Regions from separate parts of the Homo sapiens genome. Here region 2 is linked to region 1. A link means that fine-mapping ties the variant in region 1 to the plasma level of a protein whose gene starts in the linked region. Region 1 holds a variant in brackets. A gene starts in the other region. All regions are shown on their forward strands.

Evidence for each region. PIP is the chance, under the fine-mapping model, that this variant and not a neighbour inherited with it causes the effect. Protein levels are from antibody-based Olink assays in UK Biobank. Linkage for the fine-mapping came from a reference panel and not from the study's own genotypes, which makes the PIPs less certain.
Region 2: it holds the start of CSF3, and the variant in region 1 is fine-mapped to the plasma level of the CSF3 protein (UK Biobank, PIP above 0.99).

The regions. Positions count from the first base shown.
Region 1 is chr1:36,471,708-36,474,600 of GRCh38, forward strand. CSF3R (colony stimulating factor 3 receptor) reads right to left here. Exons shown (of 17, transcript NM_000760.4): 5 at 2,057-2,180; 6 at 1,728-1,915; 7 at 810-979; 8 at 531-684; 9 at 359-432. Among named protein-coding and RNA genes, the nearest start is that of MRPS15, 8.8 kb to the left of the region's middle. The variant C/T (reference allele first, on the strand shown) is at 570.
Region 2 is chr17:40,014,242-40,017,134 of GRCh38, forward strand. It overlaps CSF3 (colony stimulating factor 3), which reads left to right and starts at 1,199. Exons shown (of 5, transcript NM_172219.3): 1 at 1,199-1,273; 2 at 1,450-1,604; 3 at 1,992-2,099; 4 at 2,244-2,390; 5 at 2,554-2,893. The coding sequence starts at 1,234. The coding sequence ends at 2,718. PSMD3-AS1 (PSMD3 antisense RNA 1) reads right to left here and starts at 400. Exons shown (of 3, transcript NR_198981.1): 1 at 313-400; 2 at 1-118. RefSeq lists an enhancer at 1,109-1,608.

The sequences.
Region 1 (2,893 bases):
CTCTAGGTGGGGTGGATGGATCATACAAACGGAGCCTCCCCAGGCTGGGGTCCAGGCTTCTCACCCCCCTCCCCTTTTCCCTCTGTTCCCTTGTGCTAGGTTCTAGGAAGGAGGGCAGGAAGAAACAAGTTGGTGGACACAGCAGGCTCTTAACTATTCACTGAACCACACTGTGACGTGCGTTACAGTCTGTCCAAAAGCTAACTCAGCTCCCTAGGCACATGCAAAGTGCATGCAAATCACATATAAATGCGTCCACGCCTCCCAGACCTGTTGGAGTCCTAAGCCCCGGTTTGTAGGGATCTGTTTGGACTGCGGGAGGTGTCGAGGTGGAGGGATGGCCTTCAGAGGGAGTCACCTTCCAGAACAGCTGCACTGTCCTGGGGTCCAGCTGCCTCTGCCGCCACCATGTGTCCAGTCTGACAGTGGGGGCTGTGGATGGAACAAGAAGAGGGGGTGCCAGTTGGGGAGGGGCCTGGGGCCTGGACTGGATACTGTTGGCTGCTCCCAGCCTCTCATCACCTCCTTACCCCGTTCGGTAGTTCTCAGCTCCAGGCTGGGGCTCCAGT[C/T]GCTCCAGTGGCCAGGCAGGGGCCAGCGGATGCAGCGTATCTGCAGGGTGTAGGCCGTGGCTGGGAGGAGCCCGCAGAGCTCATACTGAAGGGCCTCCAAGGGGAGGGGGCCCACCTGGTGAGGGGTGGACAGGACTCTGAGCCTTGGATCGCTGGGCCATTCTAGGGCCAGCTCGAGCCCGACTTACCCTGCCCCCTGCCCCCACCACCTCAGGCTCTCCAGGTTGCCCTCTGCCTCACCAGTGCCCAGCTGGCTTCTCCACGCTGCGGCTTGTGGCGCAGCTCACACTTCTGATTTATGTGCAGGCCTGGCTGCCATGGCTCCCAGCACAGCTGTAGGCAGCCTGCCTGGGGAGGGGCCGCTTCAGGGCTGGGGTCCATGGTCCGCAGCATGGGGGGCTCCAGTTTCACTGCAAGGAGTGGGGCTGTCAGAAGGTCTCCCTATCCCACCCTAGAGGGCTCTGCCTTAGCTCCCTCTTGTCTCCCTGTCTGTGGTTCACCATCTGTCCACGTTGCCAATGACACGTTTCTGTGGTTCGATCTCTATGTGTCTTTGTTTCTCTCTAGGTCTCTGTTTCCGCTCTTGCCCCAGGGCCTTTGCACTGGTTGTTACTTCTGCTTGAAATGTTTTCCCTCCAGATATCCAGCGGCTTGCTCCCTCATTTCCTTCAAGGATCTGCTCAATTGTCACCCTCTTAGTGAGGCCTTTCTTGACCAGCATATTAAAATAGCCAGTGCTCCCCTTCCCCCCTCTCTCTCTATGCCCTTCTCCTCCTTTAATTTCTCCTTTCTGCTTATTGCTATCTGAAATTCTATCTTATTTTCCCCCCCACTTGAATCTAACATTCTGAGGGCATTTTTGATGCTTTGTATCCCCAGTACCTAGAGCAGTGCCTAACATGTAGTGGGTGCTTTAGGAAACACGCTGAAAGCATGACTGAATGTGTCTCTTTGCCTCTGTGTCTCTTCCTGTCTCTGGGTCTGTGTCCCCATTTCTCTGTCTCCAGCTGCACCTTTCTTTGTCTCTGTCCCTCTTCTGTGCCTCTGTCTCTAGGTCTTCCAGTGTCTTCTTGTCTGTCGCTAGTTCTGTGTTTCCCTCTCCATTCCTCTCAGTGTCTGCCCATTTTGGGGATCCCCTCCCTCCCCTGCATCACCCACCAACATCCATGGGATCAAGACACAGTTGTGGGGACATGCTGGTCCCCAGCGCATTCTCTGCCTGCACCCAGATGCCCATATTCTGGTACAACAGCAGGTGTTTGCGTGGGATGCAGCAGTGGCTCTGCCCGTCCTTGGGCACGCAGTCCAGGATGGAGTCCCCTTGGGTCTGACAGTTGCCCCGGCTCCTGCCAATAGTCCAGGCTTGGGTGCCAAGCAGAGGAAGAAAGCGAGGCTCCCTTCTCCCTCCCAGAGGCATGCCCAGCATCCTACCCATGCCCTACCCCAGAATCCAAAGGGAGGGGACCAAGGTGGGGGCCCCTCCTCACTTGAAACTCTTCAGAGTGAAGCTGGTGGGTAGGTGGGTCTCAGGTCCTGGCTCCCACTGGCAGATGAGGCTGCTGGTTGTGAGGTTCATGAGGCAGGAGAGGTTGTGGGGTATGGCTGGAGGGTCTGCATGTGGGTGGGAAGAGTGTGAGGGCTTTGGGTGGGACCACTCAGAAAGCTTCCTCTGGGACCAGCTGGCCCTGTTGCCTTGCCCTGGCTTGGTTCCTCTGTTGTCACCTTGTCTGTCCCCCTGTCTCCAGGCAGAGTGGCTCTGGAAGGGCAGCCCTGGGGGAAGCTAAGTTGCAGGCATGCACCGGGGCAAGCATCACAGACTCCCAGCAGCCCAGTGGTGGCCCACTTCCAAGGCCCCCAACTCTAGACCCTTTGTCAGTGACAGTGTAGTGTTTGAGTTTTCATCCTGGTCCTGCCATTCATTAGCCCTGTGATCTTGAAGTTATTTAACTGCTCCATGCCTCAGCATCCTCATCTGTAAAATGGGGATAATGGTAAAATCCCACCCCCTAGCGTTATCACAAGGGCTAAATGACTCACTCTACATGAAGTGCTCAGAACAGTGCCTAACTTACAGGAAATGCTATGTAAGTGTTAGCAGTGGCCATTACTGGTGCTTTTTTTTTTTTTTTTTTTTTTTTTGAGACAGAGTCTCACTCTGTGGCCCAGGCTGGAGTGCAGTGGCGTGATCTCGGCTCACTCGGCTAATTTTTGTATTTTTAGTAGAGACGGGGTTTCCCCATGTTGGCCAGGCTGTTCTCAAACTCCTGACCTCAAATGATCCACCTACCTCAGGCTCCCAAAGTGCTGGGATTACAGGTGTGAGC
Region 2 (2,893 bases), not on the chromosome of region 1:
AGTTCCAGCTACTCGGGAGGCTGAGGCAGGAGAATGGCGTGAACCCGAGAGGCAGAGTTTGCAGTGAGCCGAGATCGCGCCACTGCACTCCAGCCTGGGCGACAGAGCAAGACTCCATCTGGAAAAGAAAAAGAAAACGTTCAGGTCTGAGCCAGAGGCCCAGGCTGTAATTCTGTCACTTACCATGACCTTGGGCAAGGCACTTCCTTCCCTGGCCCAGTTCACGGGGTTGGAATCGACTCCAAGGTCCCTTCCAGCATTAACGCTGCATGGTTCTAAGATGAGAAGATGGGGCAGTTTCCCCTCTCTCACCCCAGCCCGTGTCCACTTCAAGGTGAATGACCAGGGAAGTCACGTGTCCCAATCCCGCAGTTCCAAAGCCCTTGGGGACCCTACTGTCAGGGTCGTGCACGAGGAGGTGAAGGTCAGGTGAGCCAATCGCCTCGAAGGGTCTTGCCTCATTCGGGACAGACATCCGGTTTCCTCTGGCTCTACCGGGATTCTAGGGGCTTTAGCCGAATGAGTCATGGGGGGCGGGGGGGTTTCTGGGGGAGTTCCCAGCTAATCAACTTGGGACAGGACAGCCTGGAACTTTCGATGGTGCCTATCCAAGTGTGGGGTGGGCACAGCAGCCAAGACCCAATGTCCTTATCTCAGGTAGGGGCTCAGGAGGTCTCCCAGACAGGCAGCCTCCGGAGAGTTTGGGGGTAGGAATGGGAGCAACCAGCTTCTTTTTTTCTCTCTTAGAATTTGGGGGCTTGGGGGACAGGCTTGAGAATCCCAAAGGAGAGGGGCAAAGGACACTGCCCCCGCAAGTCTGCCAGAGCAGAGAGGGAGACCCCGACTCAGCTGCCACTTCCCCACAGGCTGCTGCCGCTTCCAGGCGTCTATCAGCGGCTCAGCCTTTGTTCAGCTGTTCTGTTCAAACACTCTGGGGCCATTCAGGCCTGGGTGGGGCAGCGGGAGGAAGGGAGTTTGAGGGGGGCAAGGCGACGTCAAAGGAGGATCAGAGATTCCACAATTTCACAAAACTTTCGCAAACAGCTTTTTGTTCCAACCCCCCTGCATTGTCTTGGACACCAAATTTGCATAAATCCTGGGAAGTTATTACTAAGCCTTAGTCGTGGCCCCAGGTAATTTCCTCCCAGGCCTCCATGGGGTTATGTATAAAGGCCCCCCTAGAGCTGGGCCCCAAAACAGCCCGGAGCCTGCAGCCCAGCCCCACCCAGACCCATGGCTGGACCTGCCACCCAGAGCCCCATGAAGCTGATGGGTGAGTGTCTTGGCCCAGGATGGGAGAGCCGCCTGCCCTGGCATGGGAGGGAGGCTGGTGTGACAGAGGGGCTGGGGATCCCCGTTCTGGGAATGGGGATTAAAGGCACCCAGTGTCCCCGAGAGGGCCTCAGGTGGTAGGGAACAGCATGTCTCCTGAGCCCGCTCTGTCCCCAGCCCTGCAGCTGCTGCTGTGGCACAGTGCACTCTGGACAGTGCAGGAAGCCACCCCCCTGGGCCCTGCCAGCTCCCTGCCCCAGAGCTTCCTGCTCAAGTGCTTAGAGCAAGTGAGGAAGATCCAGGGCGATGGCGCAGCGCTCCAGGAGAAGCTGGTGAGTGAGGTGGGTGAGAGGGCTGTGGAGGGAAGCCCGGTGGGGAGAGCTAAGGGGGATGGAACTGCAGGGCCAACATCCTCTGGAAGGGACGTGGGAGAATATTAGGAGCAGTGGAGCTGGGGAAGGCTGGGAAGGGACTTGGGGAGGAGGACCTTGGTGGGGACAGTGCTCGGGAGGGCTGGCTGGGATGGGAGTGGAGGCATTACATTCAGGAGAAAGGGCAAGGGCCCCTGTGAGATCAGAGAGTGGGGGTGCAGGGCAGAGAGGAACTGAACAGCCTGGCAGGACATGGAGGGAGGGGAAAGACCAGAGAGTCGGGGAGGACCCGGGAAGGAGCGGCGACCCGGCCATGGCGAGTCTCACTCAGCATCCTTCCATCCCCAGTGTGCCACCTACAAGCTGTGCCACCCCGAGGAGCTGGTGCTGCTCGGACACTCTCTGGGCATCCCCTGGGCTCCCCTGAGCAGCTGCCCCAGCCAGGCCCTGCAGCTGGTGAGTGTCAGGAAAGGATAAGGCTAATGAGGAGGGGGAAGGAGAGGAGGAACACCCATGGGCTCCCCCATGTCTCCAGGTTCCAAGCTGGGGGCCTGACGTATCTCAGGCAGCACCCCCTAACTCTTCCGCTCTGTCTCACAGGCAGGCTGCTTGAGCCAACTCCATAGCGGCCTTTTCCTCTACCAGGGGCTCCTGCAGGCCCTGGAAGGGATCTCCCCCGAGTTGGGTCCCACCTTGGACACACTGCAGCTGGACGTCGCCGACTTTGCCACCACCATCTGGCAGCAGGTGAGCCTTGTTGGGCAGGGTGGCCAAGGTCGTGCTGGCATTCTGGGCACCACAGCCAGGCCTGTGTATGGGCCCTGTCCATGCTGTCACCCCCAGCATTTCCTCATTTGTAATAACGCCCACTCAGAAGGGCCCAACCACTGATCACAGCTTTCCCCCACAGATGGAAGAACTGGGAATGGCCCCTGCCCTGCAGCCCACCCAGGGTGCCATGCCGGCCTTCGCCTCTGCTTTCCAGCGCCGGGCAGGAGGGGTCCTGGTTGCCTCCCATCTGCAGAGCTTCCTGGAGGTGTCGTACCGCGTTCTACGCCACCTTGCCCAGCCCTGAGCCAAGCCCTCCCCATCCCATGTATTTATCTCTATTTAATATTTATGTCTATTTAAGCCTCATATTTAAAGACAGGGAAGAGCAGAACGGAGCCCCAGGCCTCTGTGTCCTTCCCTGCATTTCTGAGTTTCATTCTCCTGCCTGTAGCAGTGAGAAAAAGCTCCTGTCCTCCCAT